Linked DNA regions of Homo sapiens. The protein of the gene in region 1 purifies or fractionates together with the protein of each later gene. This does not show direct contact. Each region holds a gene or a part of one and is shown on either strand. Other genes may lie near its edges.

What was found. Proteins that work in one complex are often made in the same cells at the same time.
Region 2: the proteins of TMOD1 (region 1) and NEXN purify together in Homo sapiens (co-immunoprecipitation; one large-scale study listed by IntAct). This does not show direct contact.

What each region holds. Positions count from the first base shown.
Region 1 is NC_000009.12:97,564,166-97,567,665, reverse strand, and holds part of TMOD1 (tropomodulin-1), read right to left. Parts: coding exon 3,498-3,500; intron 1,819-3,497; coding exon 1,711-1,818; intron 1-1,710. UniProt on the Homo sapiens protein: Blocks the elongation and depolymerization of the actin filaments at the pointed end. The Tmod/TM complex contributes to the formation of the short actin protofilament, which in turn defines the geometry of the membrane skeleton.
Region 2 is NC_000001.11:77,895,124-77,898,623, reverse strand, and holds part of NEXN (nexilin), read right to left. Parts: intron 1-3,500. UniProt on the Homo sapiens protein: Involved in regulating cell migration through association with the actin cytoskeleton. Has an essential role in the maintenance of Z line and sarcomere integrity.

The DNA.
Region 1 (3,500 bases):
CTGTGTCTTCCACCAGAACCTTCCTGCTCCCAGGAAAGGCCTGGCCTGGCTTAATCAAATCTAATAAAAAAAATCAAAATAACAACCAGTAGGCAACCTGCTAGGCTGATCCAACTGGACATGCTGGTGGCTGAGCAGGTCCTGGAGGCCCTGTCTTGCCAGGTGTTAACTCCTTGTATGCTGGGTCCCAGTGGAGGAACCGGGGCCAGGAGAAAAGCTAGGGCAGGCGGTGGGGGCCCTGACAGAGCTCTGGCAGCCTGATTTACCAACTGGCCCAGAAGCATCTCAGTGTTTGACACGGGCATACTGGTGTGCATAGGCTGATATCAGCTGTTGGTCTGGCAGAGTCCATGCCCAAAAAACATTTGTGGACCTGAGCTGAGGGCCAGAATGGATGTGCTTGGTTTCTGACCCATGACATAGTAGCATACAGGGCATGTGGCTTTGCCAGCTGTGTTCCTATGGGCAAGGAACCATGGAGATCTGAGGTCAGAGGTCATCAATCCAGAGGTTCCCCACTGACAGCAATGAGAGACTGTGAGCTATTTCTATTATTTCAAAAATATGAAAGAACACTGTCTTACCTATTTTAAGAATCAGAAAAAAATCGATTGCTACTAAATGGTTAATTACTAGCCCTGATAAACTAGCTTCTGCCCTTCTTGCAGGAATCTAGCTTTGCAGTAATTGCACTGTACTGTTACCCTTTAGTTGTCTGCTTGGCCAAATGGACCAGAATCTTTATGAAAGTGGAAGCTGAGACTGGTCACAATTGTATTCCCAGAACCTAATTCAGCGTTGGGCACAGAGAGACTCTCAATACATATGTGCTGGATGTTTAAAAAGAAGAGTTGATGGCTACTTCAGAGTAAGTACAATTTAATTTGATCAGAAATATCTTTTGAGACTTATAAAATAAAATTGGTCATTGGGACCTGCTGATGAAACCATCATTTTTATTTTTTTAAATTTTTATTTATTTATTTATTTATTTTGTGATGGAGCCTCGCTCTGTCGCCCAAGCTGGAGTATAGTGGTGCAATCTCGGCTCACTACAACCTCCGCCTCCTGGGCTCAAGTGCTTCTCCTGCTTCAGCCTCCCGAGTAGCTGGGATTACAGGCATGCACCACCAAGCCCAGGTAATTTTTATACTTTTAGTAGAGACGGGGTTTCACCATGTTGGCCAGGCTGGTCTCGAACTTCTGACCTCAAGTGATCCACCCGTCTTGACCTCCCAAAGTGCTGGAATTGCAGGTGTGAGCCACTGCGCCCAACCAAAACCATTGATTTTAGAGATGGAAAAACTGAGGAACAGGGAAGGGCAGGCTCTTGTTCTAATATGATGTGCCGAGTGAAGATTTAGGGGTCACGTGACTGCACTGGACTTGCAGGTCCACCTCTCACTTGCTGTGTGACTGGACAAAACAAGTTGCCTGACCTCTCCGAACCCTAGATTTTTTAAGTGCAAAGTGGGGAGAACTGCACATCTGAGACCAGAAGTGGGTGTGAGGATTGGCCAGGATGACGTGTAGGTGGTGCCAGGTGATGGCTGTTCCCTCTACACCCCTCATGGCTCCTGGTCCAATGCCTTCCACTGTACCACATAGAGCTCTTTGTTAGTGGGATACAACCAGTCCTGAGGCCACATATTTCAACCCTTCTGTTTCAAGGCCCCCAGCCACAATGCAACAGAACAGAAAGGTACATACATACGCCACGGGGTCATTACTCCGTGTCCCCACGATGCTGAACTTCTTCACATATGAGTTTTCTTTCAGGGCTTCTGCATATGCCTTGAGGGTGGGGATGGGGATATTCTGCACAAAGAAAGGCAACAGAGAGAGTGACCAGAAGCCTCCTCTGGGACAGGCTGAGGCAGGTGGATTAGCCTGGCTACTCTCTGATTCCTGGCAAGTCTCTGGCCAAAAAGCTGAATGGGCAAAAGGTTTAGGCTTTGTCCCGGACGACTGAAATCTGGGGAGAACTTTCTGGTAAACAGATTTAGAAAATCCTCCCTGAAAATTTCAGATAAGACCTGTAACCTCTTTCTTTGTGCACTTGGGGGCCAGAGAAGAGGCAAAAATTAAGGCGTGTAGTATTGTGCAAAGAGCTAGGACTAGGGGTGTGAGAGGGGCTGGAACCTGGCCTTGGTCCCAATGATCGGCAATGTTCCTGACTTGCTAGGTGTCTCTGTGGAAGCCTCCTGCCCTCTCTGGCCCTGTTTCTGGAAAACAGGTAAGGGGGTTGCATATGATACTCTTTAAGAGACATCTACCCCAGGGGGTCTCTGCTCCAGCGGCACATCAGAGACTCCTGGGGAACTTTTACAAAATGGTGATGCTTGGGCCGGCCCAGAACAATAGAATCAGAATCTCTAGGGTCAGGCCTGGGCGTTGGTATATATTTTTTAATCTTCTCAGGTGAAAACCACTGATCTGGTCCAACAGGCTCACAGTGCAGAGGAGAAACTGAGGCCCAGAGGAGGCTGGGGCCTCACAGGGAGATTCCATCCCTCATGTGGCCCTGAGGCAGCATTCACTGCCAGTGGGCAGCATTCTGAATTGTGCCAATGTCTCCTACTGGGCACATGAAAGAAAACATGGCTGTGTTTTTACCAATCTCTCAGAGCGTCACTTTAGCTCCCATGGGAGCAGAGCATGGGGAGGCCAGGTGGGGGTGAACACTAGGGTGCAGGTTTCCAATCTGATGGTGCCGTGGGGCTGGCAGCTGCTTAAAATAAAGTGGAGAAGGAAAGAAAGTGGAGCAGGGGCATGGGGGGCTGGCTTCTAGTCTTACCCCCACCCCCCTCCCAGAACTAATCCACTGGTCTCTGGGCTCAGCAGGTGGGTAGAAAGCTGCATTTGTCTCTGAATTCTTCCTGCGGCGGCCTGTTCAGGGTGAGACTGCCTGTCCACCTGTCCCTCCCCTGCCCCGGGATCACATAAGGAAATGTGCACAGAGAAAAGGGCAGACAGCTTGGGATATCGCTTTGGACATTTTGGCCAACAGCTCCCTTCTGTGGCTGTAAAACAAGGCTGAATATGAACGTGATATAGCAGCAGCGATGGCACAGGGGAGGGGCCTGCCCAGGGCCTGTGTTACCCCCGAGCCTAGTGGGCACCGGACTTTTCCAGCCTTGAGATCCCATGCAGCAGCGTGTGTCTGACTCATGATTTTATCTCGGAGAATCTCTCAGTGTTTTGAATAACGTGGCAGGTTTCCAGATCAAAGCTGGGTTGGCCCGTGCTAAACATCTGGGCCTGATATCATCCTCAGAAAGAAACCAGGACTGCCAGATGCACTTGTTTACACTGCCCACCCCTCTTAAAGGCTCCCATTTGCAAAGGTTTTGTCCCTATTCCCAATGCAGAAACACCCAGAATCCAAACAGGACCCTGTTTACTCTGCACAACCAACCCTGGACCGTTTGCATTTGGGTGACATGGTTCCCCCTCCCCCAGCCACACACAGGTAAAGTGAAATAAATGGACCTTACCCG
Region 2 (3,500 bases), on another chromosome or scaffold:
TGTTTTAGACATGAAGTCCTTGCCCATGCCTGTGTCCTGAATGGTATTGCCTAGGTTTTCTTCTAGGGTTTTTATGCTTTTAGGTCTAACATTTAAGTATTTAATCCATCTTGAATTAATTTTTCTACAAGGTATAAGGAAGGGATCCAGTTTCAGCTTTCTACATATGGCTAGCCAGTTTTCCCAGCACCATTTATTAAATAGGGAATCCTTTCCCCATTGCTTGTTTTTCTCAGGTTTGTCAAAGATCAGATAGTTGTAGATATGTGGCATTATTTCTGAGGGCTCTGTCCTGTTCCATTGATCTATATCTCTGTTTTGGTACCAGTACCGTGCTGTTTTGGTTACTGTAGCCTTGTAGTATAGTTTGAAGTCAGGTAGCGTGATGCCTCCAGCTTTGTTCTTTTGGCTTAGGATTGGCTTGGTGATGCGGGTTCTTTTTTGGTTCCATATGAACTTTAAAGTAGTTTTTTCCAATTCCGTGAAGAAAGTCATTGGTAGCTTGATGGGGATGGCATTGAATCTATAAATTACCTTGGGCAGTATGGCCATTTTCATGATATTGATTCTTCCTATGCATGAGCATGGAATGTTCTTCCATTTGTTTGTATCCTCTTTTATTTCATTGAGCAGTGGTTTGTAGTTCTCCTTGAAGAGGTCCTTCACTTCCCTTGTAAGTTGGATTCCTAGGTATTTTATTCTCTTTGAAGCAATTGTGAATGGGAGTTCACTCATGATTTGGCTCTCTGTTTGTCTGTTATTGGTGTATAAGAATGCTTGTGATTTTTGCACATTGATTTTGTATCCTGAGACTTTGCTGAAGTTGCTTATCAGCTTAAGGAGATTTTGGGCTGAGACAGTGGGGTTTTCTACATATACAATCATGTCATCTGCAAACAGGGACAATTTGACTTTCTCTTTTCCTAATTGAATACCCTTTATTTCCTTCTCCTGCCTAATTGCCCTGGCCAGAACTTCCAACACTATGTTGAATAGGAGTGGTGAGAGAGGGCATCCCTGTCTTGTGCCAGTTTTCAAAGGGAATGCTTCCAGTTTTTGTCCATTCAGTATGATATTGGCTGTGGGTTTGTCATAGATAGCTCTTATTATTTTGAGATACATCCCATCAATACCTAATTTATTGAGAGTTTTTAGCATGAAGCATTGTTGAATTTTGTCAAAGGCCTTTTCTGCATCTATTGAAATAATCATGTGGTTTTTGTCTTTGGTTCTGTTTATATGCTGGATTACATTTATTGATTTGCGTATATTGAACCAGCCTCACATCCCAGGGATGAAGCCCACTTGATCATGGTGGATAAGCTTTTTGATGTGCTGCTGGATTCAGTTTGCCAGTATTTTATTGAGGATTTTTGCATCAATGTTCATCAAGGATATTGGTCTAAAATTCTCTTTTTTGGTTGTGTCTCTGCCAGGCTTTGGTATCAGGATGATGCTGGCCTCATAAAATGAGTTAGAGAGGAGTCCCTCTTTTCCTATTGATTGGAATAGTTTCAGAAGGAATGGTACCAGCTCTTCTTTGTACCTCGGTAGAATTCGGCTGTGAATCCATCTGGTCCTGGACTTTTTTTGGTTGGTAAGCTATTGATTATTGCCACAACTTCAGAGCCTGTTATTGGTCTATTCAGAGATTCAACTTCTTCCTGGTTTAGTCTTGGGAGGGTGTATGTGTTGAGGAATTTATCCATTTCTTCTAGATTTTCTAGTTTATTTGCGTAGAGGTGTTTGTAGTATTCTCTGATGGTAGTTTGTATTTCTGTGGGATCGGTGGTGATATCCCCTTTATCATTTTTTATTGCATCTATTTGATTCTTCTCTCTTTTCTAAATTTTTTTTTTTTTAATTAGACAGAGTCTTGCTCTGTCACCCAGGCTGGAGTGCAGTGGTGCAATCTCAGCTCACTGCAACCTCTGCCTCCCAGGTTCAAGCAGTTCTGTGCCTCAGCCTCCCGAGTAGCTGGGATTACAACTGTCTGCCACCACACTCAGCTAATTTTTGTATTTTTAGTAGGGATGGGGTTTCACCATATTGGCCAGGCTGGCCTTGAACTCCTGAGCTCCACCCGCCTCGGGCTCCCAAAGTGCTGGGATTACAGGTGTGAGCCACCATGCCCAGCCTTCTTGATGGAACTTACACTGTAGTGGGGCACAATTGCAAGAGGTTTGGCCAATTTGATTTGGAGGGGTAGAGGTGAGGAGAGGAATATTGTCAAGAATGAACCCAAGCAAGAGTCAGAGGATGAGAAATAAACAAACAAACAAGTAAATAAAAAAGGATGAACCCAAGGTTTCTAGTTTGAGCAAATGGGTGAACAGGGTTACCATTAACTGGAGATTAAATTAAAAGGCATGTTTAAGTCAGAAAATGAGCTCAGTTTCTGAGTCACTGTGCTTGGCCGACAACTTATTTATTTATTTATTTATTTATTTATTGAGACAAAGTCTCACTGTGTCACCCAAGCTGGAGAGCAGTGGTGTCATTTCTGCTCACTGCAACCTTTGCCTCCTGGGTTCAAGCAATTCTCCTGCCTCAGCCTCCCGAATAGCTGGGATTACAGGCACATGCAACCACACCTGGCTAATTTTTTTTAGTACAGACAGGGTTTCACCATGTTGGCCAAGCTGGTCTCCAACTCCTGACCTCAAGTGATCTGCTCACCTAAGCCTACCAAAGTGCTGGGATTACAGATGTGAGCCACTGTGCCCAACCAGGCTGTCAACTTTTAAGATTTCTTTTTTGAGATGGAGTCTTGCTCTGTCGCCCAGGCTGGAGTGCAATGGCACTATCTCAGCTCACTGCAACCTCCACCTCCCAGGTTCAAGTGATTCTCATGCCTCAGCCTCCTAAGTAGCTGGGATTACAGGTGTGCACTACCACACCCGGCTAATTTTTGTATTTTTTAGCAGAGATGGGGTTTCACCATGTTGACCAGACTGATCTCTAACTCCTGGCCTCAAGAGATCCGCCTGCCTTGCACCCCCAAAGTGCTGGAATTACAGGCGTGAGCCACAGTGCCCAGCCAACTTTTAAGAAGATTTTAAACGTAATACTTAACTATATGCTACAAGTAAATGTTGAAACCTAATTCTTACAGTCTTTGGAACAAGCAACAAAATTGTTTTGAGCTTCATAAAATATGAGCCTAAATTTTTATCATTTTTCACTTGTACAGGAAACATAAACTTAGGTATAATGTAACTTTATTGCATTTAATTAATGAAGGTTGCAACCTTATACTTTAAAAATTACACTATAGGTGACCGGGCGCGGTGGCTCATGCCTGTAATCCCAGCACTTTCAGAGGCCAAGGCGGGCGGATCAAGAGGTCAGGAGATCGAGACCATCCTGGCTAACACGGCGAAACCCCATCTCTACTAAAAATACAAAAAAATTAGCCAATCATGGTGGCGGGTGCCTGTAGTCCCAGCTACTCGGGAGGCTGAGGCAGGAGAATGGTGTGAATCTGGGAGGCGGAGTTT